Linked DNA regions of Homo sapiens: regions 1 and 2 are each linked to region 3. Evidence: fine-mapped expression QTL. A gene starts in region 3. Each other region holds a variant in brackets. All regions are shown on one strand. Distances are from middle to middle. Region 1 overlaps SYBU (syntabulin). Region 2 overlaps EBAG9 (estrogen receptor binding site associated antigen 9). Region 3 holds the start of EBAG9 (estrogen receptor binding site associated antigen 9).

The links. PIP is the estimated chance that this variant, and not a neighbour inherited with it, causes the effect.
Region 1: its variant is the best candidate, but not a certain one, in a credible set for the expression of EBAG9 in lung (TOPMed, PIP 0.63).
Region 2: its variant is the best candidate, but not a certain one, in a credible set for the expression of EBAG9 in skeletal muscle (FUSION, PIP 0.56).

The regions. Positions count from the first base shown.
Region 1 is chr8:109,592,130-109,602,310 of GRCh38, forward strand. The region is part of intron 3 of SYBU (syntabulin); the gene reads right to left. Among named protein-coding and RNA genes, the nearest start is that of SYBU-AS1, 47 kb to the right of the region's middle. RefSeq lists an enhancer at 3,429-3,508. The variant C/A (reference allele first, on the strand shown) is at 4,485.
Region 2 is chr8:109,559,568-109,569,748 of GRCh38, forward strand. It overlaps EBAG9 (estrogen receptor binding site associated antigen 9), which reads left to right. Exons shown (of 7, transcript NM_004215.5): 6 at 1,271-1,362; 7 at 4,872-6,429. The coding sequence ends at 4,992. Among named protein-coding and RNA genes, the nearest start is that of EBAG9, 24 kb to the left of the region's middle. The variant G/A (reference allele first, on the strand shown) is at 5,603.
Region 3 is chr8:109,535,060-109,545,240 of GRCh38, forward strand. It overlaps EBAG9 (estrogen receptor binding site associated antigen 9), which reads left to right and starts at 5,114. Exons shown (of 7, transcript NM_004215.5): 1 at 5,114-5,402. EBAG9UORF reads left to right here and starts at 4,667. Exons shown (of 1, transcript NM_001436381.1): 1 at 4,667-4,741. The coding sequence starts at 4,667. The coding sequence ends at 4,741. It overlaps PKHD1L1 (PKHD1 like 1), which reads left to right. Exons shown (of 78, transcript NM_177531.6): 78 at 1-2,148. RefSeq lists a silencer at 4,513-5,062 and an enhancer at 5,123-5,482.

The DNA.
Region 1 (10,181 bases), 57 kb after region 3:
TGGCCCAAAGGCCAGAAGATGGCTTCTCAAAAAAGGTCTTGATTACATCTATCCCTTAAAAAGACCTATAATAGGAAATGCTTTTTTCTACTCATACATTTTTATAATTACTCTTTACAAAAGGTGGTTTTCCTTTTGCCATTGTTCAGCAAAGAGCATGTTTCTGTTTTTTAATTCTCTTTCTGTGTGTGTGTGTGTACAATAAGATGTTTCCAAAGATCCTGATTCTAAAAGAGACTCCCCATGGACGCCTCCAAAAAGTTCTAGAGTCTCTTGTGGTTTAGAACTCTGCCTTCTGAAAGTCCCAGGGGAAATACTAGTAGGTTTACTGCAGCTCTCATCTTTGCAGGGCCCAGTCTCCTGAGCTAGGTAGCTTGGAAGGTCTGAGAAAGGGAGGAGGCCTTAAGGAGGCCAAGAGGGTCAGAGGCAACACCACCCAGTTCACTCCTGTACCTTGGGCTGGCTCAGCTACCTGTCTAAGCAGAAATACAGGTGACCCATCTGCTGAACAAGAAGAGTGAATCAGAGAAATGATAAGCAAAGAGGGTGTAAAGAAACTTCAATAAACAAGGAGAAGTGAAAGTTTCTGACCAGAAGTAGCTATAAAGCCCAGCTCCACCTGTCACTAGTTGTGTATCTTGACCAAGTTTTTTTTAACTTATCTAAGCCTTACTTATATATGTATACACACACATTTTAAAAGGTTAATTTATTATTTATTTAGCAAAAAGTTATTGAGCACCTGCCATGTGTCAAATCCTGTTTTAAGTGCAAAGATAATGATTCCCATCCCATTGGGTTGCTGTGAAAATGAATTGAGTTAATGCATAGAAAGTGCTTGACACACTCATAAATACGAATCTTAAAATTATTATTAATAATGCAGTGGTTCCTAAACCTAACTGTGCATGAAGATTTATCTGGGAAGTTTAATAATAGTGCAGATTTCTGGGAAACTCTCACAAAAATTCCAGTTCAGAAGATCTGGGAGGAGGGTGGCCCAGGCATCTGCATTTTTGATAATTACTATAGCTGATTGTGCAGCAGGTGGTCCATGAACCATATTATGAGGAAGAGAGCTCCAAAGGTAAAAAAGTGCCTGGACTTTCTCTCCAAGTTCTGTCAAATTGCAAGAGCTCTCTTCAGTGCGATGTGAACAATGAGTGAGCAGAAATGAAGACAGACAGGCCAGCAAAAGGAAGAGGAAGAAATTCACGGGCAAAGTGCACTCTGAGAGAAGAATTTAATCTACAGAATGATCTGTACCCCCACGGCTCTCCAGAAACACTTGCCTGGAGTGAATACATTATCAGAGGACTGGAGGGAAAGACAGAATGTACATAAGGCACAGGTTGTTTGAAACTGGGCCAGTTCCAGCCAAACTCATGTACACAAATGTTGGTTTGCAAAGCTAGTAGGACACTTAACAGTTGGTTCATGGTTCAAAGTCCTCATAATCCTGTTGTAAAAGAGAAGGGTCCAACCAGTGTGCTGTTGAACGTGTCAAATGCCATTCAGCAGAGAAATAACATTTCACAATCCAGCATACCCTGCACTGGGGTTATTCCATCAGTGCCAACCTGAATTTTCCATGGCAGACATGCTTCACAGCATCAAAGGAACTACACACAGGCATTCATCATCTCCCACACTGACTCAGCTCAGGAACCACTCCAGTGGCAGGCATGTCCAACGGGCAGCCCTTCCCCCACTGCCTTTCACCCAACAGGTCTGGGAAAGGTTACATCCACCGTGGTCATAAATGTCATCCTAGCTCATTATGTTGGGGACCAAGTAATAACAGAGCAAATCCTCCCTGAAGTATTTTACAGACTTGTACATGGGACTTATCTTTGATTTCTTGTCAAATTTACTGAAGTGAACTGAATTTCTACCCCCTTAAAAGAACTAGCTGGAAAGCCTGCTGCTTCTATTTAAGGAGAAGCATTTATCCAGTGTTTACCAAAATGAGATGCCTGCCCTCCTGTCTGGCAGGAAAACCTACATCAGGAAGAGCAGCACTAATGGTGGTGCTGGGTGCGGAGCAGGGGTGTCATTGCAGGAGGCATTCATAGGGGAGGAAGGAGGTGATGAAGGACTGGGAGAGAAAAATGGGGAGTGAGACACCAGGAAAGACAGAAGGTCAGGACAGGGCTAGGATTTAAGTCTATGACTCAGTCCAGAATATAAGGGAGAAGGAAAAGATGAGAATGTTTTGGAGTCACCTCATTCTCCACTCTTCTTCATCTCAGTGAGGTGGTGCTGTCTGCTTGCAATTCTAGACCACAAATGGAATAAAACACCCACTTACTGGGAAACAGATGACATAATTCACAACTCGTTGCCAAGACATCCAATGGGGCCCTAAAATAATTTTTTTTAAAAAACTCACTTCTGTACTTAAACATGGCTTTTCTTAATTGACTCTAAGACCTAACAACCTTGACCATTCAACCCCCATCTTCATCCTCACTGTGTGACAACTTCCAGGGCACACTATCTTCTCAACCCACAGGTTCCTTTCTTCCCTTGGCAGTGGCACTCAGAGTGTCAGGAAGGTTGCATATGTCTCGCACGTGGCTCACTCCCTGGATTTTCTCAGTAGCACTGACCTCCACCTCCACTGCATTTAAACAGAGCAGAGTTCTGACACTGGACTCAACCATGCTCCCCTTCCAATATCTTGACATGCTTTCACCCTCCTCTCTCTTTCTCACTTGTACTTTCAGTCTCTATGAAGTTATTTCTCTGCCTTTTTAAAAATAATATGGTTTAGTAGTTTCAGTTGCTAGCTGTGTGACCTTGGGAAAGACAAGCTCTCTGAGCTTCATTTTTTTCTATGAAAGGAGAATAATAATAGTATCTATTTCATAGAGTTGTTGTAAGGATGATGTAAGATAATATATGTAAAACATGTAAAAATAGTGCTGGCACTCAGTAAGCACTTTAAAATTTCACTATTATTTTTACTTTTCTTCTTATGATTACCCTCTTTGAACCATATCAAGGTCCCAAAACATGTGAGGCCAAAATCTGGAAGAACTTAGAACAGTGACAAGGAATGAGGCGAGGCTGTTGTGTAGTGTGAGTGGCAAGAAAGGATTCAAAACAAGCATGAAAATAAAAAAAATAAAAGATGGTCCTGGCAGAGGATGGTAAAAATTCTTCTTTTAGATTATAAGTCAGTGAGTAAATCCTCCTTAGCTGTATTGACTGAATATCCCAATTTCACAGGAAGGCCTGCAGCACACTAAACAACAGGGAGCTAATGACCCAACCCTTCTTATAGGGTCTGTGGCTCACGAATAACACATGGTGAGAGCTGTTATCTCCACATCAGTTCATATTTGTGTGTTCTCCAGCTTTTTGCTAGCACACGTGGGCTGAGACCATAGTCCTGCCTTCAGAGAGAGGCAAATGTCTTAGGAGGGACTCAAGTTAGGTGCTAAGAGAGGTCAACAATGGGAAAGACTGTTTCCTGCTGGAAGCATGAAGACTTCATGGAGGAGGCACACTGAACTAGCCAGGTTTTGAAGCCATTTACAACAATTCAGGACTGTAGCATGCAGAGCTGTGGAGACAGCACAGTGTGAAGGGAACAGCACACAGAGATGGTAATGCTGAAAGAATTAGAAGCAACAGCAGGGAATGAGGCAATAAAGGGAACTTGGAGGCAGGCGAATTTAAAACCTTCCTTAGACACAGGTCCCAGTGGTTGCCACTGGTCAGGTTAAGAGTTGCTCATATTTGACACACAGGTCTTTTTCATTTTCTAAAATTCCCACTTTCACTTCTCTAATAAAATATGCAAACATATTACCTTACTCAGAGAGGTGAAAATGAAAGAAAAGGAAGCACATATTTTTCCTATTCTAGGGATCCTACAGCCACAATTCTGTCTGAAGTGATTCCACTGACAACCCTTAATGGTCTACTGATCCGTGCCCTTCTTGATCTCCATTTAGAGGCTGAACCTGCTGACGTGTGAGGTGAGGAAGTGGCAGGTCAGAGAGTGCCATACGAAACTAAGCATGGAACTATTTTTCTATACGTGAATGACATTTCATTATTTTCTCTATGACCTAGAAAGTTGTTCTCTCAATGTATTTTTTAAAAGAGTCTCAGATACAAAGAACTGGATTAATCATAATTCTTGGTTTTTGACATTCTGTCATCATTGGCCCATGCAAGGCTATCTTTAATTTATTTATTTACTGACTGCTCTGTTTAGGTATTTATGTTTTGTTTATGTTTAATATAATAAATGAAGAAACCACCAATCCATCACAAAAACTAGAACAGTGACACTAACTTACATGCATTTATGTGGTCTTCCTTTATCTTATCCCCTGTTCACCATTTCCTTGCGTTCACTTTTACAAAGAATGATCACATCTATGTATTTTTAAAAGGTAGAATTTGAGGATTTTTGTTTTATTTGTTTTTAACTTTTTAAAATAAAACAGGTTATCATGATGTATATA[C/A]AATCTTTTGGGACAATTTTCATTCAATATTATATTGCGAAAATTCTCCATATAGTTGTAGTGTGTTCATTTGACTGCTACATAATATTAGAGTGTGTGATTTTTATCCATAATTTATACTTCATTCTCCCGATAATGAGAAAATGAGTTGACTTTATTCCAGTTACTCATTTAGCTAGATTTTCCATTCTGATAAACATGTATTTGCATTTCCAGAGTCTAAGAAGAAAAATCAAGAGGAAATCTACTCTTAATAATGTATTCCATAGGCAAAAAGAAATGCTCTGTGGATCACCTGTCCTTACAGATTTGTACTTTTATTTACCCTTCTTCCTATCATTATGAATAATTAAAAGTAGTTATGAAGAGTAAAAGTAAAACTAGAATCTCTGTTTTACCTTATTCCAATTTTAGGGTCCAATATGCCTAAGGTGACCCATTGTCTCATGGTAGCTCTGACCCTGAATAGCCCTCAAAGATCAGGAATTACGTGATGCCCTGTTGAGTTTGGCTTAGGTCACTTCACAACCCTGTACTTAAGACTTGGCAAGGAGATGGGCCCATGAACATGAGAAGCTGACCCAGAGTTGCTGGATTATGCATACAACCTCATCGAGGGAGAAACCTCTTGTCCCAAAGTGGGGAGGAAGAGTGATGGGGGAAAGCTTCCCTGACGGTATGTGCTGGTGTTTAATGCAGCCCAGAACTTGTTCCTAATTCCAAGGCCTAATTCCAAGTTGCAAGCGAAGAAAAGATCATCATTTTAAGGCAAGCCCCACTGTTTTGGAGAAGGAGAAGCCACCAGTTAAGTCTCTATATTAAAGCTGGGTGCAGTGGCTCCCGTCTGTAATCCCAGCACTTTGGGAGGCTGAGATAGGCAGATCAATTGAGCCCAGGGGTTCGAGACCAGCCTGGGTAAAATGGTAAAACCCCATCTCTGAAAAAAAAAAAATTAGCCAGGCATGGTGGCATGCGCTTATAGTCCCACTACTCAGGTGACTGAGGTGGGAAGATCAATTGAGCCCCGGAGGTTGAGGCTGCAGTGAGCCATGAGCATGCCACTGCACTCCAGCCTGGGTGACAGAGTAAGGCCCTGTCTCAAAAAAAAGTTTTTTGAGTCTATATGAGGAAGTAACTGCTATGCTTTTTAGATGTTACAGGCAAAGTAAAAATTTCTATCTTTTGATTTTTATCTAAGCATCTATGTGTTAGAGCTGATGACTTGTCACTTCAAAATGTCTTTGTGAAGTTAAATGTCTGTTGAGCGAGTCAGGCAATTATGGGATAGATTTTAAACCATCCTCAGTGAGTCAGAAACATGTTTCCCAGGTGGTGCTGATGCTGCTGGTTTGGAGCCACTCTTTGAGAGTCACTGTTTCAGAAGAATGAGAAGATGACTAATTTAGGAGCAGAGGTGACATTCTGTAAGATTAAATAACTTATGGGTAGAGGTGAGACCCAGTAATATATGTTTTAATAAGCCCTCCAGGAATATAGATGCTAAAGTTTGAGGACCACTGCCCTAAGACAGGCCTATGCCTGAGATCCCCCAGCAGCTTCCTGAATGGCTGCCTCTGACAAAGTGAGAGCAGCCGGCTTGACTGTAATTTGACATACAGATACACACTGTAGTATATATTTTGGGAACATTTTTACATATTTCACATCCAAAATGAGTGAACTGCTTAATTTACTTGGCATAATACTGAGTGGTACTAACCATGCTGCATGTAATTGACAATATGTTTTTAACAGCTGTGGTTAAGAGCAGGTGCTAGCATCAGCAGATTCAGGGCTCAAATATCCACTCTTTCATTAATGACAGTGTGACCTCAGGCAATCACTTAACCTCTCTATGCCTAAGTTTACTCACTGTAAAAAGGGACTAAAAGAGTACCTATCATATGGAATTTTTGTGAGAATTAAACGCCATAATATGAACTACTGTAAGTGCACAGTAAATACTCATCATCATCATCATCATTAGCCTACTTATCCACGTGTTTGGTATGTGTGCTGCTAAACACTAAATTTTTCTAATAATTCTTCCATATGGGCACTGTAGACTATCTAAGTAATGTGATTTAAGAAGGAAAGGTATTTATTAAGTGACTAAACTCTAAATACAAGTGATAAGTTGTAGATGACCTAGTTTCTCTCGGGAATAGTTAGAAATGGCTTGTTATGTTCACACCCTGTTCAAAGTGCCTTACAGGCATTCTCATTGAATCTTCATATCAAGCATATGAAAGAGGTACAATTATTATTCCTATTTTACAGGTGAGGAAAGTAGACAACAGGTAAGTTGCTGAAGGTCACACAGCCCTTATGTGGGGATCTGAAACATCACAATAAGATTCAAAATGTGCCTTAAACACCAGGAAAGTATACCTGCGTGGAACTTCAAGACTTGGGGCAATTTTGCCACCCTCACCCCCCATCCCACCCAAAGTGTTTGCTTGCACTGAAACCTTTGAAAACACATTTACAAACAATCTGCAATAAAAAGTCTTAACGAAATCATCACTACTCTATTCTGTATCCCCCACCAGAGAGCAAACAATTAGTGAACACAGACTATACTAGCAAGGAGACTGCCCTTGCACAGTAAACCCTGGGGCTGTGTCATTCATCTACTTTCGACAAAGATAATAGGATTGAATCTTCATTCTTAAGCAAAAAGTTAACATAACAGAAATACATTTTAAAGAAGTGTTGCCATTTGAAACATCAAATAGATAGGGTTTTTTATGGTACAGTCTGAGGACCACCTGCATCAGTATCACCTGGCCTCTTTGTTAAAAATACAGATTCTTGACTCATACTCCAGATCTGCTGATTGAAATTTCTTTAAGTCAGCCTCATAATCCATTTTCACAAATTGCCCAGGTGATCTTCTACGCACAGTAATGTTGAGAAATCACTACAACAAATGCTTCTTGTTTTCAAATCTGTCTGTTTAGTAACTGTGTCATCTGTCTGCTCTTTCCCATCCTGAATTCTCCACCTGAGGCCATCATCATTTCTCACCCAGAATTACTGAAACAGCATCACACTGTGCCCAGCTGCTCCTTGTGGCCCTGAGCAGTTTGTCTTCCACACTACTCCAGAGAAGAAACCTCATTAGGCAATTCCCTTGTTGAAACTCCTCAATGGCACCCTGTGTCCATGAAGTCCAAACTCTTTAGCACGATTTACAAACCCTCCATAATCTCTTCAGACTGTCATACCATAACCACTGCCAATGGAACCATTCACAGTTTCCTGAAGGAGGCACGATAGCCTCTAGACTCCCAGCTTTCACACATGCTGTTCCCTCTAGCTGGATTATTTTCCCATCCCTCTGGGCTTGGCTAACTACTACCTGTTCTTCAGGTCTCAGTTTAGCCTTGAGCTTTACTTCCTTCAGGAAGGGGATTAGGTGGCCCTCCTTTATCTGACCCCACCAAGAATTTAACAAGTATTTATCACATTGCACTGCAATTGCCTGTTTGCTTTAACATATTTTCCAGTATGCTTGTCAGCTCCTTGAGGGCGTGTTCTTTTGTATCCCCATGTGTCACACAGGGTTTAGCACAGAGTAGGTGCTGTTGTTTTGAAATGTTATTTCACAGCATTAAAAGTTTCTCCACCATTGGCATTTAGGGATAGCTCCTCTTTCTCCTATTTTGCCCTTTAGGTTGGATTGACAGACTGATGTTATTTCCAATTAGGACAAAAATACTCCCTTCCACTCCTACTTCCAGCCTGTATGCCCAAACCTCTTAAAAGTCAAGTTTTCAGCCCAGGATACCAGCATGCAAAAACCACGCTAACTGCAAAGACCTCTGTCTTGTTCATCACTGCATCCCCAGAGCCAAGAGCACAGAGCCTGGCTTATAGGAGACTCAGAAGAATATTTAATGAATGAGGGAAGAAAGGTACCAAAAGAACTTACATATATGATTGCAGAAATGGTATCATTAACTTTGAGAAACTGGAAAGGATGGGAGGTAGAAGATTGGAAATGGGCAAAAACTCTGCAGGTCATGAACATAGAGAAAAGATAAATTCTGAAAATCACAAACTGCTGTTTGGTGTTGATTTCCAGTAAAATTGTAGAGAAAGTCCTTTAATAAGGCAAGAAGGAGCCAGCAGGAGTTCACTGGCTCAGATGTGAAAAACAATCTGCACATCCTTTTCTGAAGGAGTTAACATGGCCACATACATCACATATTTGGAGTTCAGCAGACGTTTAATGCAAACACTTAGGATACTCTTATGAACAAGGTCGACATGTGTGCATTGGGTGATAGCACAGTCCAGTACCCACGGGATGTTGACAAATGGACTGTCTGTCAACCTCTAGGGAAATCTCTAGTAACACATCACCTGGCCCTGGTGTTGTCCATATCCTATTTAACATGCTTTATTAATGACATGAATGAAATCATGGATGGTGTGGTGTTGGCGGCAGACTCCTGATTACACAAAACCTTGAAGGGATAACTAATGCATCGGATGACAGCATCAGATAATAATGCCACTAGCCACTGTGGACTCAGAGCCTACTCTGCCAAGAACTCTACAGCTGCTATTTCCTTTAATCCTTCCTCCCAAAGACATACAAGTAAAGACCAGGAAACCAAAGTTCTGAGTGATGCTGAGACTCACCCCAAATCACAGAGCTACTAAGCAGCAGAGCTGGCTTGTCTGACATCACTCTGCTTGATCCTTGTGATCAGAATTCACAAAGATCTAAGATCAGGAAACCAAGACAACAATGTTCAATCTAGTCCATCTCAACTATGCGTTAAACACTTCCTAGGCTAAGGCACTGGATGGGGGAGGCATGGAGAAACAGTTCCAATGCTCAAGGGTTTCCTAGGAGGAGTTAGACTATACAGACAAACAACCAGGATATAAGGCAGAATACAATGAGTGCAAACAGAGAGGGCGGGCACCCAGAAAACACAGAGGAGGAAGAAATCTTCTTAGCTAGGGTGAAGGGATGAGGGCAGGGGAATATGTCATGGGAGAGATGACACTTGAGATGGCCCTGATACACCAGGAAGAATATAGTGTTGGGGGCATGGACAGGAGTTGACCTTGGGTGAAAGAGATCACATGAACTAAAACACAGAGGAAGAAAAACACAGGGCATGTTTAGTACATATATGGAGTCCCTTGTATGGCTAGAATATAGTGATCATATGAGAAAATGCAGCCAAAAAGGTGAGTTGTAACCAGAGAGTTGAAAAATGTAAAAATTATGCTATGGGCAAGAGGGAACTATGACATACTGAAGGCAAGAGAGAACCATAATGAGTTTTGTTTGGGGTGGTAACATGAACAGTGATGCTTTATGAAGACAACATGACAGCAATATCTGAAGGAGAGACTGGAGGCTGGTGGGGAATTCAGGTGACTGTTACAGTTTGGAGATGGGTCATAAGGTAAGGGAAAAGGAATGCTGAAAAAGGAGACCCTTTCCAGGTAGCTCTTAGGTTCCACAAAATTAACTGTATGGGTTCAAAATCATTTGACACTCCAGATGGACAAAATGATTAAAAATAGAAAAAGGATAAAGTCAAGTTAAACATTAAAAAACACCTTTATCTTATGCCATATGCTTGACTGCAGTGCTACCCACATAAAAGAACAATTGAGTGGAGATACGTATGTTTGGAAAAGCAAACAAAATGGGAAATATCTCAA
Region 2 (10,181 bases), 25 kb after region 3:
TTGGGAAATTGAGGCAGGAGGATCACTTGAGTTCAGGAGTTCAAGACCAACCTGAGCAACATAGCTAGACCTCATCTCTAAAAAAATGTAAAAAACAATCAGCCAGGTGTGGTGGCATGTGCCTATAGTCCCAGCTACTAGGGCAGCCGAGGTGGGAGGATCCCTTGAGCCCGGGAGTTTGAAGCTGCAGTGAACCATGATCACACCATGCACTCCAGCCTGGGCAACAAAGTGAAACGCTGATTCCTAAAAAAAAAAAGGGAGAAGAAAAGGCAGGATTTCTACCTACTGCGGTCAAGAGGATAACTTGGTACTTTTCAAGGCTGTCATTTGCACTTTGTTTCAGTAGCTTTAAAAATCCTCCTTTCAGAAATGTATATTAAATAATTAGAAATATTTTAAGAATTTTTAACAGAGTATGGTATTACATATATTCTCAGGAGAAGAAAACTCAAAACATTCTATTTCATTTTTAGGGGTAAGTATTTAAAACAATATGATATTAAATAAATGTGTTCACAGATTGGTACCAGTTATTTTACACACAGTCACTTCCACACCTACCTAAACAGTCCAGCATGACCATTTTCATTGGTTATTGAAAGAAAACAGTGAACTTTTAGAGGTCTGGCTTGGGAAATAGAGGTAGGGACCAGTAGATGATACCAGGTAAGAAAGACTGGGAAAAGGAAGCATGACCTAGAAGTATTTCATTAAAGATAAATTTTGCATGATTTGTCATTTTTGCCTAGGATTGAGACAGTAAGTGCCAATAAAAAATCTCCAGTAAGTTACATATGCTTAAATGAAGAATGACTGTGCTAGTTTTTGAACTTCAGCTCGCAGTTCTTCTCAGCACAGATTAGTCCAGTCAAGGATTTCTAATTCAGTCTGGGATCAGTCAGTTTCTTGTCACTCTATCCCCAGCTCCCTCATCTTACTGAGGAGAGAAAGAAACAAAAGACATGTTCTGTTCTTGTTCCTTCCAAAATAAAGTACAGCAAAGAAGAGAATTTAAGAGAGTATCCCATGAAACATAAAGAAGAAAGCTGGCCTTGCCTAGGACTGTTGAACACTGAAAGTCATACATCAGTTCTAGGCAAGCCAAAAGCAAAATCATCTGTGCCTTGTATAGGACAGGGTAAGGAAGCTGAGAAGACATAGGAGAATGACAGGTTCTGAGTTATGTGTTAAAAGATACTCTTTTTAACGGCTATGTGGAGAAAGGATGGCTTTTACTCTCTTAATTTTGTTTTACTTTTCATTGTAGTCTGAATTAGGTGACTTAGATACCTGGCAGGAAAATACCAATGCATGGGAAGAAGAAGAAGATGCAGCCTGGCAAGCAGAAGAAGTTCTGAGGTATTTGAGTGGCATTTATATTGCAACCTGAGTAGAAGAACTAGATTTCTTCCCTGCTGTGTTTCAAGTCAAGGGAGCCTATTTTGCCAAATATTATATTTTTCTTCATTTGATCCTTAGATAATAAGGACTTTTTTTTTTGTATTTCAGACTGCAGATACTATTTTATATGATTAAAACCTCACAGAAACCAAGAATTTTAAGCTCTATAGGAACAAAATAACTTTATTAATGGCAAATGGAGTGTTATATATACATGTATATAAAAGGTTTTATATATATGTTTTATATATATATATATAAGGTTATATGCATATACATACCATATTACAAGCTTGATATTCCTCTAGGTCAGAAGTTACAACTTTATTTCCATTTCCTCATGATCTAGCATAGTGCCCAGTACTGCTCATTTGAGTGAAAATAACTTATGTGACACTCTACATTTGTACATATATCTTAAATGATGTCCATGAAAGCCCTATGTGTTAGATGAACTACCCATTCTGCAAAAAAATACTATTCTGGAAGTTTTAAAGTTCATTTTTATTGGTTGTTCTTTTTTGTGTGTGAGCAGCAAACATATTTCTTAGTACTGCTACATTAGGTCAAAGAGTAAAGAGAAAATTTATCTTAAGGGAGAGCTAGTGACTGATTACTGCTTTTTAAAAGTCAGATATTTAAATGCATCTAAAGAATTCATACATTTTTTAAATTGTGTAGTAAGATACAGCAATATAAATTTTTTTATTTTAAAATTGAGATTGTTTTTACCATAGGAATAGCAGACAAATTATTCTTTATCTGACTCAACAAAAAAACTGATTTCATTTTTGTATTTTCCTTTCTTGGCTTTGTCAATAAATTACAGTTACTGTGAACAACCAGCAGAGGGTGCAGCTAAATAACTGGGAATTTTGTTTGAAGTTTTTGTTTTTTTCCTTTGAAATATATCAAGCCCTTTTTTTTTTTTTTTTTTTGCAGGTTAGGGGACGTCACATTTCAAAATTCAGTCAGTAAAATTGTGAGAGTTTTTAAAATTTAGTTCTTATTTAATCAGTATAGCTTATCTTTTATAAAGGGAATATTTTTTAAATTGTGAACTATAACACTTAGGATATTGCATGGATCATCAAAAAAGATAAATCATCTCTTTAAAATTCTGTGTTATTTTAAAAAACAAATAATAGATACAGATGTCTGAGTATTTTAAGACATTTTGGGGATTCTAGTAATTATTAGTGCCATTAACCACAAAGACAAAGGAAGGGGTCTGTCCTTTTTAAATACAGTAATCTCACTGTAGAGTTCAAGCCATGAGTTCACAAGTATCTTAATATTGTACAAAAACCTTTTCTTTTTCATTCTAGCCTCTTAACCCCTAAGCAAAACAAATGAAAAAATGTACTTAAAAACTTAATGTTTTACCCTTTAAGGACAGCTTGGGAGAGTGAGATTGTTAATCCGTAATAGACATGCTTCATGCCGCAAGTACATAGGTAGAGCCAAAGAGAAATGGAGGTGTCAGTACATTGTTACTGCCCCTGAATAGACATTGAGCATTTTAAAAGTGTATCCACATTCCGTATTGTCTAACTCTGAGCTTTTTTCCTGTTGCCACTATAAATAATGCCAGTACTGTGATCAGTATTGCTAAGAATGAAGATTCTGGTACTTTAATAATTCCCAGCATGAATCTGGATAGGTAAAATGTATTTTTGTCTGCAGCTATCTCGTAAGTTGTCTCTTTTATACTTTAGTTTTTGATACAGATTGGGTATCCCTTTCCAAAATGCTTGGGACCAGAAGTGTTTCAGATTTTGAAATTTTTGAGAGTTTAGAATATTTGTGTTCTGCTGCTAGTTCATCATCCCAAATATGAAAATCTAAAATCTGAAATGCTCCAATGAGAATTTCCTTTGAGCATCAGGTAGGCCCTCAGAAAGTTTCAGATTTTGGAGCATTTCAGATTTCGGATTTTTGTATTTGGGATGCTCAGCCCTTATATTATTTCAGCTAGTAACCAGGTCAAAACTTCGTTATCTTACTTGTTTATAACCTAGCCAGCCCTTTATAATTTTTTCTCTACCTCCCTTTTTTCTTCTGGTTTGACATTTTTAGTTCAGATTATTAGTTTTTATTGAACATCAGCAGAGTGATGAAAAACAGATTTTTTAAAACTATTCTTCAGAAATTGATAGCAAAAGTCAAAATGTTGCCAAAAATAGTTTCTTTACTTTCTTGAATTTTGGTCATCCATAACTCTGCCTACTCCTGTTTATGACTGAGAACTGTACATACATTTCACTCACTGTAGTTAATATTGAGCTCCCCCAGACATAGATAATCCACTTTGGATTTTTCTGCATATAACCTAATGTTGCCTATTCCATGCCCAATTGTGACCTGTAGCTTCCTTCCTCAACGTTGCATACTTGAATGATTTTCTCACACCCTAACCCTTCAGATCCAGGACCAATGTATGTTTACTCTGCTCTCTCCTGTTTCATCATCCCACTCCTACCTCCACTCCCTACATTAACCAATCAGTAAAGATAGAGAGAGTGAGTCTGGGTCAGTGGAGTTACGGAAAGAGTAAGGAACAGGTATGTATTTCACAAAGTATGATTAGTAAATACCTACCACTCTTTTTTTTTTTTTTTTAAACTTAAGTTCAGGGGGACATGTGCAGGATGTGCAGGTTTGTTACACAGGTAAACATGTGTCAAGGGGGTTTGTCGTACAGATATTTCATCAGCCAGGTATTAAACCTAGTATCCATTAGTTATTTTTCCTGATCCTCTCCCTCCGTCTAACCTCAGCCTTTCCGGTAGGCCCCAGTATGCATTGTTCTCCTCTATGTGTTCATGTGTTCTCATCATTTAGCGCCCACTTATAAGTGAGAACATGCAGTATTTGATTAAATACCCACCACTCTTCTCTTTGGTAGAGTTAGTCACATGTTAATCCTGAAATTTACTTGGTGGAAGGTGTATCTTAAGTTTCCATTTTCTTTTTGGAGCGTGTGTTCTGTTCAGCTGTGTTCATCATGCACTTTAAAAACTGGCTGTTTGTAACTACTATAATAACAGGAGATTATCAAGCTCAATATCAAGCTTTTCTGAATGGTATCCCCAGAAAAAGATGTGGTTCAATGGAAGTATTGTTTTACAAAATGGAGATAATCTAAATAAGAAGTGTCAGAAGATGTGAGTTCTTATCCCTGTACTTAATCCTATGACTTCGGGCAAGTCACTTAGCCTTTATGCCTCATTTTACTTATTTGTAAAATAGAGATAATATTTCTTCTATTTCACAAGTCACGTTCTAAGGACTAAGAGAAATCCTGTTTTTGAAAATATTTGGAATTTTCAAATTAGTGAGAAAATTTTAAGACTTTCAACATTTTATTTGGTGATAATAAAAAGGCACTGCTATTTCTTTCTAGAATTTATTTGCCATTTTACCTGTTTGGTATTTTCTAAAAGTAAAAGTATGTTTCTTTTCAGACAGCAGAAACTAGCAGACAGAGAAAAGAGAGCAGCCGAACAACAAAGGAAGAAAATGGAAAAGGAAGCACAACGGCTAATGAAGAAGGAACAAAACAAAATTGGTGTGAAACTTTCATAACACATGTTCAAATTTTATCATGCCAGTAGGAGAAATCTCAGCTCCACAACCCAAGCAACATTTGTATGGATTTAAGAGTATTTTAAGAAGACATACTGCTTGATTTTAATACATTGATCAGGCCATCCAGGACACCACGATTCTCCCAAAGTACCTTGAACTCTTAGTGATTGAGACTCAAAAAAACAAAAAAGACTTGAGACAATGTTTTCTTCAACATGCTCCAAATATAAGACATTTGTTTGCTGTACAGAAAGTATCACAAATGGAATATATCAGTACCTCTCAAGCTAGTGTTTCTAGCTAAATAAATGGGTGTATATAATTTTATGGTGGAAAAGAACTGTACTGTCTGTTATGATTTCCTTCAATGTGCATAATGATAAAATAAATAATTTTAATATTCTTTTGTTTCCATGGTTACCTGACCTAAATTAGATAAATTGTAGGGCTTTAGCTTTCTTATTTTTGTCAAAAGTTGGTGTTGACATACATTCCCTCTAATTTGAACTGGTATTGTTTACGTTTGATACAACATTAAGGAATTTGATGATTTTCATTTCATGAAAATGACATTAAATGCAATAATTTTACTTATCATAAACATTTT[G/A]TACATCATTATTTTCTTTTGGATTAGTGTTGTCATACATGTAATTTATATCACATGTATAAACATTGAAAATCAACTAAAATGACATTTGTTCTACATTATAACTTGTGAGTTTCAAGAACTAGTATTAGTAGTTTTTTCCTTTCATTATAGATTGTAAGATGTTGTGGTATCTTTGAGTGCCTTAGTTCTTCCTTCCTCCCAAAAGCCATTAATTTACAAATGCTTAAAGCCATCAGGTCAAATATTTCAAAGCCTTTAGATGATTTCTGTACTAGCTTTAGATGTCTGACGTTATGTAGGTTACCTGTGTTCTTGGCTAGGAAAACATTATTGATTCATTAAATCATAAAGGTGGGAATAATAATCTTTTATTTATGATGTTGATTGGCTCCAAAATAGTCTTAAGGAAATAAATACTGGGTCTGTAGGGGAAAAGTAGACTTCATAGTTTAAAATCCCATTAACCTTTTCACCGCAGTTGAAATGCATCCAGCCTGATTTTCCTATCATTTTGGAATTTTTAAGGATTTTTACTTTCTTAAGTTACTGCCTAGAATCAACATTCGGTGAGATTTTGAAATGTCATAGATACTGTACAGGCCAAACCTTACTAATTTATTTTACTTAAAGTGATATTTTATAGAAAAATCATAAGTTATACAATGAGAACCCTTTAAGCCCTTAGCCTAAGCTTTCAGACTAAATGTGATTATAGAATAAGATGAAAGTTAACTTTGGTACAGAGCTTTTTATAGCCCCAAATTATATTTCCAGTTATTATATTCATTAGAATTTCTGCTAATAAACTCCCAACTTAAATAGAATTGGGCTCAAAGTTTTAATAATGTATTCTCTTCCTTCTTTGTATTTATAGTTAGTTATTATGGGAATACAACATATCTTCTCTAAATTTGGAATTCATAAAGGATAACTTCCTTTAGCTCAATTACTTGTATTGCTTTTCCCTAGTAGCTGAAAAGTATTTAAGTTTGGTTTGGTCATGATTTTCATGTGTTTGAGGTTTTTGTTGTTGTTGTTTGGCTTTTTGGTTTTTGATTATTTAAAAATAAAGACATTAGCAATTATAGTTAGTATGATTAGGAAGAAATAGATTTTTCTTGTGGAAAGAATAGATAACAATTCTGGAATTTATTTTATCTCTATTGATGTGTAAACTAAATTCCTGTATTAACTTGGGTATATTTTGGTCCCAAAAGTAGTCACTGAGTTAAATGCATATGACAAACAATTCATGGTAGCATACTGTCTCTTTTAGCTACTAAATTTATGGTTTCTATTTTTTGTTTTCTTGATTTCAATAAAGAATTGTCAGTTTTAGATGCTTATTAGAAATAATAAGAAATACTGGTAGGCATAGATAGAATTAGTGAAGTTTTAACCATTAGCAAAATCGTGCATTTCATGTACTGAGATAACAAGTAATCAAAGACATGGGAAACTTACCTTGTGTTTTTTTTTGTTTTGTTTTGTTTTTTATGTAGTAATTTCATGGTTTCTAGCCATTTCCTCTTCTTAAGCTTTACCTAGGGATATTCTCTACTTGGCTCTTCTTTTAGTATAGCATGTTTAATTGAGTTGACATTTTAGAACTGAAAATTTGAAATTCTGCATCCGAATTTCTCAGTTTTGACATGCACTTGCCTCTGGGTGATTATTTCTAGGTTGTTTCTACATGAAGATTGGTGATTGGGCAGAAGGTACCTACAGAAACCAGCATCTGGATCGAGCTTCCAACACCACTCTACAAGCTACCACCATGGCGTAAACCTAACCATAGTCAGTGTTCCAAAAAGCCTGAATTTTGTTGAGAATGGTATGTTTACTAAAGGATGGTTTGAGCCAGACAGAGCTAACATACTCATCTTGTTTGATCCTATGAAGTTCAGATTTGGAATAACCAACGATGGTTTTCATACTCCTTAAACCCCTTGCTCAAAGGAAATCTTCAGGCATGTAAGCAAACATGACAGGGTTCCGAATGGATCCCTGCTGGGAGGTTGGGAGTGGGCTAGAGCCTACAGATTGTTCCAGGGAAGGAGCTAATACCCTCTCAGGTGAACTGGAGGGCTGAAGAAGATAGTGGGTTCATGAAGAGCATATTTAGTAGCTAATAACTTAAACTTGTTTTTGTCATTTGCATAGTTTTTTTTTTAAATTTGAACTGCTCTGTCCTAATACAATACGAAGAGATTTATTTTTTTCTTTGTGTAATTCCTTTCACTTTTCTTTAACCAAAACTATCCCAAGCTTACAGCAACAGCTAGGTACTCTTTTTATACTCAACTGTTTTTTGTTTTTTTTACATTGCCTTCTGCTTTTTATCTTCCATCCCTCTTGGTCATGACCATTGGGCATACTCAATAACCAGAGTAGGTTTTGAGAGCTAGTAAAATGCTTTTTCACCAGACACCTTCGATCTTCTATAGCTTGAAAGAAACACTCTATTCTAGGGACCTCCTTGACCATCTTTTACCTTCAACAACAGATTTGTTTCTATCCTTTCATACCTCCTGCTGACACTGCTAGTTCACCAGTGGAAACTTTTGCAGAGAAGCTCACTGAAAGTCTGCGGCCAGTCCAAGATAATCCCAGCCTTCCCTTTCAGGGGACTTCTTTTCAGGGGATCTTTCTGTAGATGCTTTCCTTATATACATTGATCAGATCACCCCGGCTCTGAGAGGTTCCCAGAGTTCTCAGAGCTTCTGTAGAGGTAGTACAGCATTAAACAAATTGCCAGAGTTTGCAAATCTTTTAAATGGAAATGGTGGTTGTAAGGATTGAGACTGTACATAAGTGTTCAGTATAAGCACTCAATAATTGGAAGTTGGTATGAGGCCCTATATACTTCCCACATCTCACCATGCAGTGGTATTGGCAGCCCCTTCCCTGCAAAGAGTGGGAGAAGTTGCCTAATCTTGCAGTATTTTATACACCTTTAAATTGAACTTGAAATTTAGCAAGAAAGAAAACATTTATTGTAAGTCTGAGTCTTTGACTAATTATATCAGTGACTCTTAGCAATCCTGTAAGAGATACTACCCTTATTTCACATATAAGGAAACCAAGGCCTAGAAAATAAATTGTGTACTTGATTAATGGAATGGAAAATAGCAACCTTAGAGAGGAGGTTATAATAGTGGTTAATCAACAGTCTATGTAGACTATGATTTCTAAGGCCTCTCTTGACGGAACTATGAGCCGCCAAAATGCCTTTTAAAGTTTCTCCTAGTTCTTAATGAAGATAGCATTACAAATTATAGTAGATAATACCCATTTGTGTTTTCTAATAATTTAATAAATATGAAGAAAATTAGCTTGGTTTTTATTTTCATATAAATGACAACTGTAGTTGAATATCAGTGCCATATAATTTCATATTTGCAGTTTATTTGGGTCAGATAAGGCAAAATGAAATTGATTTATATTCACACAACTGCAGAAATAAGCCAATTAGCTCACTTGATTGGGTCATAATTATAATGAGGTCAAGGCCACAGGTTCTATGCATGTGCAGATCAGTATCGTACGTAGAGTCCTTCCTGCTACAAACTGTCCCTGACCTTGTCAGTTATTAGTGAGTGTCTAGGATTTAGTTGAGAGAATGAATGGCACAGAAGAAAACATCTCCTTGTATAGAAAATTCAAAGGACATACTCTGATCAGTATGTTGACTTATTCTTGGAGCAATTTTGGCTCTTTATAAGATATTAACTACTGCCCATAATTAGTTTTATTTGTTAAAATATTCAAACCTTAATTTGAATTCTTATACAGCAATGCCATTTCCAAACCTGTTGACTATTCCTGAATAAACGCAGTGCTTACCTATTTTATGGAGAAAACACCATCGTCAGATATAGTGGCCTCTGAAATTAACTCAGCATTTTATTGCAGTGCTAAGTGAAGATGTGCATAAGAATATAGATATATTTAGCTTGTCACATTTAAGTTTAAAATGTGAAAATACAAGTGCTTTTTTTGCTTTGTGAGGCTCTGCAGTGCATCTGAACCTCGTAATTACCTAATCTGTCTTGATTAGAAGGAGCCCTTATGGAGTGAGACAGTGCACGGGCGATCATTTTTAAAACTTGTCCATGTACAGCTTCCAGTGGGAGATGTAAAAATTATTGTCAGCTTTCATTTTTCATTTTCTGTATACAACCAACAAGCTAGAAATAATGTGCTGGTTCAGAAGAATTAAAGGTCAGTTTTAAATGCCAGCACCTATTGTTTACTGTAGAAAGTGAGGCTGGCAAACCATTTCAAACATTGTGAGCTACTTTAATTGCGAGGAAGGGGAGAGAGGGTCTTAACTGCACCATCAAATTAGAGAAGCCATGATACCTACCTTTAATATTCACAAGGGGAGTCAGACTTGATTTTATAATACATTGTCATCTTATATGTATCATGATAGTCCCAGATACTTACGTGGCTTCTATAATCTGAGGGAGAGAGAATGAGTCCTCTTCATAGTTAGACCAACAAAGCACTGGCAGACAAAATTTTGTAACAAAGGTTTAGAAAACAATTTTGTTAAGCATTCCTTATTTAG
Region 3 (10,181 bases):
AGAAATCTTTTAAAAATATTACAGAAACTGCACTTTATCCTGACTTACAGCCTTAATGTTTGAAGTAGCAGTGTATAAAATTCACACCCAGTTATAGACTGAGTAATTATAGTTGCTATGGTAATGGGCTCTGTGCCTATGAGCAAAAAAAAAAAATTCCTTTTGTGCAAGATATTTATGACTGTGCCTGGCTACATGGCAATAGTATTTTCCTTTGGTTTTTCATTACAGTAACTTATGCATTTAGGCAGATGATCCTTTATATATGTAAACGCTATAAATTCTTAGGAAGAAAATAAATTTATTAAGTTTTTCACATCAAAAATTTCTAGTATGATTATGAGTTCAATTTTCAAGTGAAAGTAATCCTTAAAGGATTTAATTTCAAATAAGAACTACGTACAAAATATAGATTTAAATTAATTTTCACTGTATGAAATGTACAGTATACATAGACCAACTCCTTTAACAAGAATTTCTGGTATGTCTTAAAGGGCATGGGTGGTTAGAGGGAGATCCCCAAACAAACAATTCAAAATTAAGAGTTTAAAAAGCAACAATCAAGACACATATCCTCCTAAGTGAATTTGAATTAGACACTGGAAAATTTAAAAAGGTCAGTTACTATGAAGAAGGTGTAACAATATTTATATTAATCAGACAGCAAAGTAACAAACTGACTTAGAGGAAGGAAAATAGTAAAATACAAAAGACTAAGTTAGCAGATCATTTTGATATCCAGATGTGCTGAAATGATGGACACTGAGAAGAAAGAATAGACAAAACTTGGCAACAGATCTTGGTATGAAATAAATATCCCATGAGTAGTACATAAAAGCCTGGAGAGAGAGGGGAAGGATTGTAAGTGTCATAGTTCTGACAGCTGCTCTTTCATCCTATGCCTTTAAAACAAAGGGAACAAAGAAGGGAACAAAGAAGGTAGAAGCGGGGGTATGGAGGGTTGACTTCTGGCTGTCCCTCCCTGTTTCCCTTTGTTAATATATTGCTAGTAGACATGTCTACTTCTGGTTGCTGATGACATAAAATTCACCTCTATTTCTTGGAAGCACTATTCCATGTTGTGAGCTAAAGGGGATTGTACTGATCTTGAAGATAACAAATCTGCCTGCTTCAAAGGTTTCACCGATTTTATTGCTGTGTTTCCAACACATTTCCACATATGGTATGATATTTAATTTGCAAAATAAATCCGTAAAGCAGGAATTACTAACCTAATTTTGCAGATGAGAAAACTGAGGCTTAAAGTTGTTCAAGGTCAAAGTCACGATGTCCATCATGCTGTAGCTCAATGAATGAGTCTCACATTGTTTCATGTTGTTTTATTTCTACTTTCTCAATCCATGTACAAGATAGATTTACAAACTACTGTTTTATGTTGGTTGTATGAATTTCAATACATTTACTGTTAGAAATAACAAAAGGTCTTAGACTGCCAGATGCTGTTCCCATCAACTCTACTTAATTCATAATATAGCTGAACTCTGTCATAAATCTAATAACGATGTGGACATTAGCCAGAAGTATGATGTGGCTGAACCTCACCACTGAACACAAAATGAGAATTCACCTCATCTTTTCATTTGAATTTATTTCTACTAAAATATATGTATTATTTTTCTTGATTTCTAACCAGGCCCCTTCTGAAGAAAACTGGTTAACTCTAAATTGTTACTAAATTTTGAATCTTCCTGTATTTAGCAATAAAAGTTACTGCTAATTGTAATAACAATTATGAGGAAAAATTTATTTAAATGCTTCATAGAAAGTTAATTTTCATTTAATAGAAAAGAAATAAAAAATCTGCTTCAGACTGTTTGATTTCTCTATTAGGCAATTGACCCTAACTAGTATATGGTGATTTTGAGTATTAAAAAAGAAGTTATAATTTTCCAGAATATTAATGTTTATTATTTTGAAAGCAAGTAAAATTCTCCAGTAGGAAGATTAATAAAACAATTCATTAAAATTCTCATCAGAAAATCCTATGCTTTCAAATGTATCTGCTCAAAGATGTCACTCTATGTGCGGCAAAGCTTTGTTTTACTTGATCAAGAAATGAATGTGACTTTATGATCTTGTATTCAACTGTGAACAGCTGCTCATTAATAAAAAGCCATTAAAGTCCAAGTCAGAACAGCAGGTCTAAAATTGTGTTTGAGGGAAAAAAAACCCACCCTTTGATGAAAAGCCAGGGAACTGGGTTGGGAAAGATCTGGAAGCAGAGGGCTGTGTTTGCAGTCTGCTCCTACCTCCTGGGCCAGGTCAGGTGACAAGGCCAGAGTTAGCCCCAGCTGGAGAAGTCAGAACAAAGCCTATGTAGGCTTTGAAAGGGGAGAGTAAGTGGTGGGCTGGAGGTTGATAGTGTGAATAAATCAAGCTGGTAATTGGGCAGAGGCTGATCAGAAGCGTTAAAGTGAGCAAAATGGTTTGGACACAGAGCAGACAGAATTTACTATATTCCATTGAGTAAAAGAAATTCATATGCCAGGTTCTATCCCTTATGTTCCTCCCATTTGACATCTGGTGGTTTCCTACCCCCGTCCCACACAAGCTTTGGGGAGAGGACAGGACTTAAAGTTCCCTGTTCCCAAGAGGTGGTCCCTAAACCCAATCCCAAATTATTGACTTGTGATCCCAATTATGGGCTTACTATTTAACAAGTAAAGATGATTTTAAAATATTATTTTATAGGTATTACTAAAGTAAATTTTAAATTTGCAGTCTTTAGCGAGCTTTGTTTTCTGTTTTGCTATTGTGTTGGGAAACAAGTACTCAGTAACTAGCTGTTTCTGGAAAAGTATATACATTTCGTTTTGTTTCATTTGGAAATGGCAAATTTAATAAAGAAAACTGAAGAATCAGGAAAAAGAAGAAAATATCCTTGGGCATAATAAATTGTCTAAAGCAATCAACTCTTTAAGAAAAAAAATTTAAACACGTTTATATCCGAATATAGGTTATTTTGGATTTTTTTTTTTTTTTTTTTTGAGTCAGGGTCCTGCTCTGTCTCCCAGGCTGGAGTGCAGGGCCCAATCATGGCTCACTGTAGTCTCGACCTCCCAGGCTCAGGTGATTCTTCCCACCTCAGCCTTCTGAGTAGCTGGGACTACAGGCATGCGCCACCAAACCTGGCTAATTTTTAAATTATTTGTAGAAACGGAGTTTCGCCCGTTGCCTGGGCTGGTCTTAAATTCCTGGGCTCAAGCGTTCCTCCTGCCTCGGCCTCCCAAAGTGCTGAGATTACAGGCATGAGTTACCGTGCCCAGCTAGATAACTCGATTTTTTAAATCCAAAAAAAATTTAGAAATTTTATATTGAAATTTAGGCATTAGAATTCTAGAGATTAAAGTTAGAGCAGGTGTTTAAGGGACTGAAAGGGGTTGCATGGCCTTTGGGAAATGCAATTACCGGAAATGATACTGTAGTAATGCAATAGTAATGCAGTAGTAGTAGTAGCTGCAGCAACAACTGTTATCTATGAATGTTTGCTATGTGCCAGGCTCTGTGCTAAGAGAGCTTTGCAAGCATTACTACTGCATGAAGTAGGCACTATTATGGCCATTTTACTGATGAGGAAATTGAGGTGAACAGATTAAATAATTTTACCCAACTTTACACAGAACCATTCCAGAGCACGAGCCATAAACACATCTTTCCCGTCTTGGAAATTAAATTATTAATAAAAAACGTGGTGCAAATTGGAAAGAGGACGGTTGTGGTAGATTATCACAAAGTTAAGTGGGTAGGTGGTTGCTGGGTCAGGGTGGGAGAACAAAGGCAGCTGTAATAAAAAAAAAAATTAAAGGCATATAAAGAAAAAGGCTTGTTGAGAACAATTTGCATAAACTGATTTTGGCCTTAGACCCTATTCACTTCTCCCTCACCAGTCACTTTGCAACTGTGGAGCATAGTATTCTGAGGGTCCCCTGCACATAACAACCCCTTTCATAGCATACAAGATAAAAAGAAGAATCAGGCTGCAAAGAGAGAAGCACTGAAGGAAAGAACATCTCAGGTTGAAAGAAGGGCAAGTCCAGGGTGCATGTGAGGAACAAATGCATGGACACGGTGAAGTGCCACTTCTTCATTTCTAGTTCAACACAATTCAATTAAAAATTACTGGGAGGAGGCTACGTCTTGAATTAAACTCAGCATTCCACATCTTTGAGGTGGCGGAATGACTGAGGGGAGGGGGTCTGTCTAGCCACATCCAAATCTTCCTGAGACAGAGGGAGATCCCTCATTTGTTGCAGTGTATTTTCCTTGGTCGCATCTGACACAGGGGTTCTGTGGGTTGAACAGAAAGGGACTTTGCTGGAGGGGAGGCACTCTGCATAGAAGGAAAGTAGGGACATCTGGCAGAAGCAGGCGCTCCGAGAATAAACAGTCAAAGCAGCTCGCAATAGTCCCAAAAAGCTACCCCTCACCGAACCTGGCGTGCCTGTCGCCGCTTGCCCCGCTCCCAGGGCTCATTGGCTCCCAGTCTCGACGTCAGACCCGTAGCCTCTCACCTATTGGGCCAGCCAGGACCTGAGGCGGAGTGCAGAAGCGAGGGCCTGGAGACAGCCGAGAGCCGCCTTCAAGGAGGGCTGGGGGCGGGGCTAGAGGAGGGGCTGGGGGCGGGTTTCCCGATGAAGGGGCGGCCATGGCAGCTGCGCAGAGGCAACGCAGGCTGCTACGGAGCGCGCGCCCGGCTTTGAATGAGCGGGGCTGGGAGTGAGCGGGCGGAGCGCGAGCTCGAGGAAGAGACAGGCAGCGCGCGTGAGCGCGCCTTGTGTGCGCGCGCGGCCCGCGGCAGCTCGGAGCCTCCGCCGGGCGGGCGGGGAGGGGGAGGGGCAGGTGAGTGTGTGCGGTTCGCGCGTGCCTGGGAGGGGCTTTCCTCTCCCTACCCCCATCCCGACCCCAGCCCTAGCCTCTGGGGCATTGTCTGCCCTTCGCCGTCGGCCCTCCGCCTAGCCGCGCACTTCCCGCCCTCCCACCTTCCTTTCGCCCTTCCACCAGACCTCCCTCGACGCCCGACAGCTGCTCTGGGTACTGTTTCCGGGTCAGGGTGACCTCTGGGGTGAGGAAACTGCGACTGGGAGCGGGACCCAGGCGTGCAGCATTCGCCATGCTCCGCTCACGCGTGGGAGACTGGGCTGTGGGGTACCGGCCCGGAAAGCACGCAGCCTCCAAAGCCGCCTTCCTCAGGGAAATTTGCGTGACCTTACTGCCCTCCGTCTACAGGCCTTGTACCTCTCCAGGCCGATTTTTCCACAATTTAAATCTCAGTTCACCTGGTATCCAGCTCCAGCAACTTAGAGCGTTTCACGTCACGCCGGGCGCCAGGCGTCGGCTTGTATAACCTGAAAACGCTCCTGTTTTTCTCATCTGTGCAGTGGGTATGATTTTTTTTTCATCAACAAATTTCACGTGGGTAATCTGAAATGAAACCACTTAAGTTATGAAACTCTTTCCTTTTGAGTTATTCTGGAGACCTTACTCCGCCTTCGGAACCGCCCCAGTGGTGTCACATACTTGAGGGCCTGACTCTCGGTTGCCAGACATGGCACAGAATGTTCGATTTTACTACCAGCTCTCACACTCCGCTTCTGTTTCCCCTTCTCTTACGGGCCGCTGCTCAAACCTTTATTTATCAAATTTAAGTGAGTTCAGGTAAATTTTATTTTGGGAGCTTTGTAATATTTTCTAACCCACTTCAGAGAGTTATAGTTTGAGGATATTCTGGACTGTACTAGATCATATGGTTTTCAAATTTTGGTATGAAAAGATTCGTAAATAGAGTTTTAGAAATACAGCACCTGTTTAGTATGTACCGAACATAGATTTTGGCTTTGCTTGTTTTGTGAATTGTGATGTATTGAGGCTACTTGAAAGGACCTCTAGCAGTTTACCGAGAATTTCAACAAGAAAAGATATAATACATTTGATCTATCAGTTTCTAATGTAGCATTCTTTTTTTAATTGTATTTTTTTTCCGTTAACATGGCAGAGCTCTCATTCTTGATTTCCTAGAGTTGTCATTTCTTCAAAAAGCCTTAATGAGGATACATTGCCTCATAGTTTTGAATCTCATTCTGATATACCTCAAATTTTTGTCTTTGTAATTTTTAAGGAAATTTAATGTTAAGATTAGATTATATTAACATTGTTCCGTTCTAGAAAGTGTTTTAAAGCAACTAAAGTGTAAAGTAGCGTAAGATACTTATCAAATTGGTGATCTAGAGGGCATTTCAAAAATCGCACTGAGGCAATGTGCACACAATTAAAAGGTTTCTTAAGTAGGATATGATGTAGGGAGAGCCTTGGGCTTTCGGGTCAGTCCCTTTAAATCCTGGGTAAGTGAATCTAAGTCTGTCAACCTCATCTATTAAACGGGAGTAGTGAAAAACCTACCTCTTTTGGTTGTCCTTAGGATTCCAGTGAGGTGATCGAACATTGTCTTGAGCGTTCAAGTGCTCAAGGAATGTTAGTTTCCTTCCATTCAACAAATATTTGAGTACCTACTATGTGCCCGGCTTTGACTGAGACCTATAAATACCAGAATGAGCAAGACTGATGGACGTCCTGCCTCCTTAGTTTCTTGCATTCCTCAGGGATAAGTTTATGGGCAAGCTCATGACAACTGGGAGTGAACGCAGAGTTTCCCCATGCGGAGTTGGTAGTATTTCCCAGCTTCCAAATCCAAAGTAGCGACTGAAACATAGTAGGTGCTAATATATATTCATTTAGATGAATAGGGACATTAAGTAAATACAGGTCTCAAAGGATATTCCTGCCTGCCAGTCAGTGTGATTGATAAAATCAAAGTGTGGCTTGATCGCATTTTCCCTATTTTAGTGCAACTGGTTGGAAAATTTATCTTGGAAGTGGTAGTATCACTGAATTATTAAGAATGTTCCTTGTTCATGAGATGTTCTTGGCTTTTGAATTAAATATACCTAGGTTTGAATGGAGTCACTGGATGTGCTTACTCTGTGTTTAATTCAATGAAACAAGGACAATAGTATCTATGTCATAAGATGGCTTTTTGAGTTGTGTGTTAACATTTTGATAGTGCATGGTTCATAGTAGACAGTCAATGAGTATCAGTTCTCCTCTTTTATTAATCACAAAAGGAAGTTTTCTGCAGAATGAGGATATTCTTGATTGCTAGGGAGAGAATTCTATTCTGTAATCACTAAAAGACCCAGTTTCTATTTTTTATTGGGAAAAAAAAAACAACCTTTAAATTTTACCTCCAGTTAGCATTGAAGTTATTCAAGTTGGCAAATATTTATAAAACAATGACACTAACAATATTTGGAAAGGTGATGGCTGTGGTTACTAGGGCAGTTTATGAAATTTATTCTCAACTTTTATTCATGTATATCCTAAAACTGACAGTCCCAAATGGTAAATATCATTTTTCTTCACAACATACTGATAGAGTATCTCCTTGATTCTATTTCCTTCCCTGCCAAGTACCACACGTTCTGTAGTCTCTTTTCTGGCTCTTTTTTCTTATAATTTTTCAGAAAATTTAGGCTAATTTTCATTTGAGAAAGTTTTCTTTTGATTGAGAGTTTTGTTCTTGACAAATCAGCTTTAAATGAAGTGATTGTTCACCATCATAATTTTTCAGATCATTCTACTCATAATGAAGCAATCAAACTTTTTTTTCAAGTCTTACTTTGCAAATGGTAACTGAAGGTACCAAATGAATAAAATACTCTAGAGAAGGGTTGTACAGGGCAAAGTAAGGTATAGAAATAACCATAATACAAAATAAAAAATGTTGTTTCTTGGGAAGAGTAAAATACTAGAATTAAGAAGACTTTACAGTACTCCAGCAAGAGGTAGTAAAGGCTTATGCTAGATAGATTACAGTGGAAATAGGAAAGAATATGGGCAGTACTGGGAAATTGAATAGGGTCTTTTTGGCAATTAGGTGTAAGGAGAAAGAAAGGAGGAGTCAGCATTGTTGCATGATTTGAACTTGAGTAAACCACTGGTTGGGATGTTTTTGACAGAAGTATTTAAATAACTCGAGTACAATTTTTAATATTCTGGTTCTTTTTTTTTTTTTTTTTTTTTTTTTTTTTTTAACAGTCACTGTTCTTTTCATCCTGTCAATTAGTAGGCCACTTCCAGGTTAGGCATTCAGTAAATCTTTCAGCTTATATGGAGAGACAGCCTCCATATGTACAAAACTACTTGAGTATTGCTAAGGTAACATTTTAGAGCCCTGTCTTTGTACCTTAATAGCCTACAAGCCCCTTCTGACCCTAGAAATAGAAAAGACTAGTGTGCGTTTTGCCTTTCCTTAGAAGAAATTGGCAATGATGCCTTTACAGAGCAATCAAGATCAGATACTATGAGAGTTAAGTATGTTTTTCTGGCTTTCTGATTTTGTTTTGTTCTTATTTTTTATGTGTTTGTTTGGAACTTTCGTATTGAGGTATAGCATACAAACAGTACATACAGTCAAGTATGTGGTGTTACTACTCAGATTGAGATATTAGATCTTAGCTCTCTAATGCTTCAGTATACCCTATCAGAGATGACCATTTTTTTTTACTATATAATTTTTAACCTATTCAATGTAATATTTTATTAGGTAAAAAGCTGCTTTTTTCAAGACTTTAGGAGTCTTGAATCCCCATGAAATGCATTTTTAAAAAGCATGGGCTGGGCATGGTAGCTCACACCTGTAATCCCAGCACTTTGGGAGGCTGAGGCAGGCAGATCACTTGAGGCCAGGAGTTCGAGACCAGCCTAGCCAACATGGCGAAACCCCGTCTCTAGTAAAAATACAAAAATTAGCGGGTGTGGTGGCATGTGCCAGTAGTCTCAGATTTGGGGGTGGCTGAGGCACGAGAATAACTTGAACCCAGGAGACAGAGGTTGCAGTGAGCCAAGATTGTACTGCTACACTCCAGCCTGGGTGACACAGCAAGACTCTATCTCAATTAAAAAAAAAAAAAAAAAAAAGTATGTTATAGTACAGGGATGGTGTATTTATCCAGGATGATTTTACTCCTTATGTTTCTAAATGTTATTGCTTATCTTATGCTCATGTAAGGTAATTAAAAAACTAATTAACATTTCAATTTTAAAAAGGTATATAGCTGTCCCTTTAATGTGGTCACATGATAATTATTACTTAAGTTAGGTTTTATCCGCTTTTAAGTAAGTATGTGTAGAACTGAAGTCCAAATATACTGCTTGTGCTTTTTTATTCTGGGAAAAAAAACTATCAAATTACTGTATGTTTTTTCTTTTTGTTTTAAGAAGTCAGCACTCTAAATAATTGTATTAATCAAGTGTTGTGATTGTTTCTAAAGGTGTTACTAATGGATTGAGAGGCCAGTCTGTTTTAGTTGTGATTTTGTTATTACCTGGTTGTTTCACCTTGAGCAGAACCGTTAACTTCAGTGTATCTTAGTTTCCTCATTTAGAAAATTTAAGAAGTTGGATGACGTATTCTCCAGCTGTTCCAATGACAGGAATCATGATTCTGAATACATAGTAATTCTCCTCCTTTGACAAAGAGAAGGCAAGGAAAAGCTAAGACATGAGATTCCATTATCAGTAATGTTATTCCTGTAAGTGTGTGCACATATGCACACACATATGTATGTTTGCCTGTGTATTTCTTGTGACTTGATTTAACATGTGGTCTGTTCTACCTCTCAACAGTGGAAAAATGACTATCTCTAATGGATTAACAGATTTTTTTCCCTCTTTCGTGTGTATTTTGAGGCTCTTAGTCGGGACATTGTCATAGTTACTTAAGTTTTCAACTTTAACTTGTGCCAAAACTCATCTTAAGAAATTTTTAAAATTAAATAGTGATTATTAGGGTAAATATATGCAGTACATATATAGTATACAATATATGCAATACATATATAGTATAGGTGACTAAGATGTATAAGAAAAATTTGGAAATTAAGAACCATGTTTAAAAAGGATACAGACCGGGCGTGGTGGCCCACACCTGTAATTTCAGCACTTTGGGAGGCTGAGGGGGTGGATCACTTGAGGTCAAGAGCTCGAGATTAGCCTGGCCAACATGCTGAAACCCTGTCTGTACTAAAAATACAAAAATTAACCTGGTGTGGTGGCAGGCACCTGTGGTCCCAGCTACTCAGGAGGCTGAGACAGGAGAATTGCTT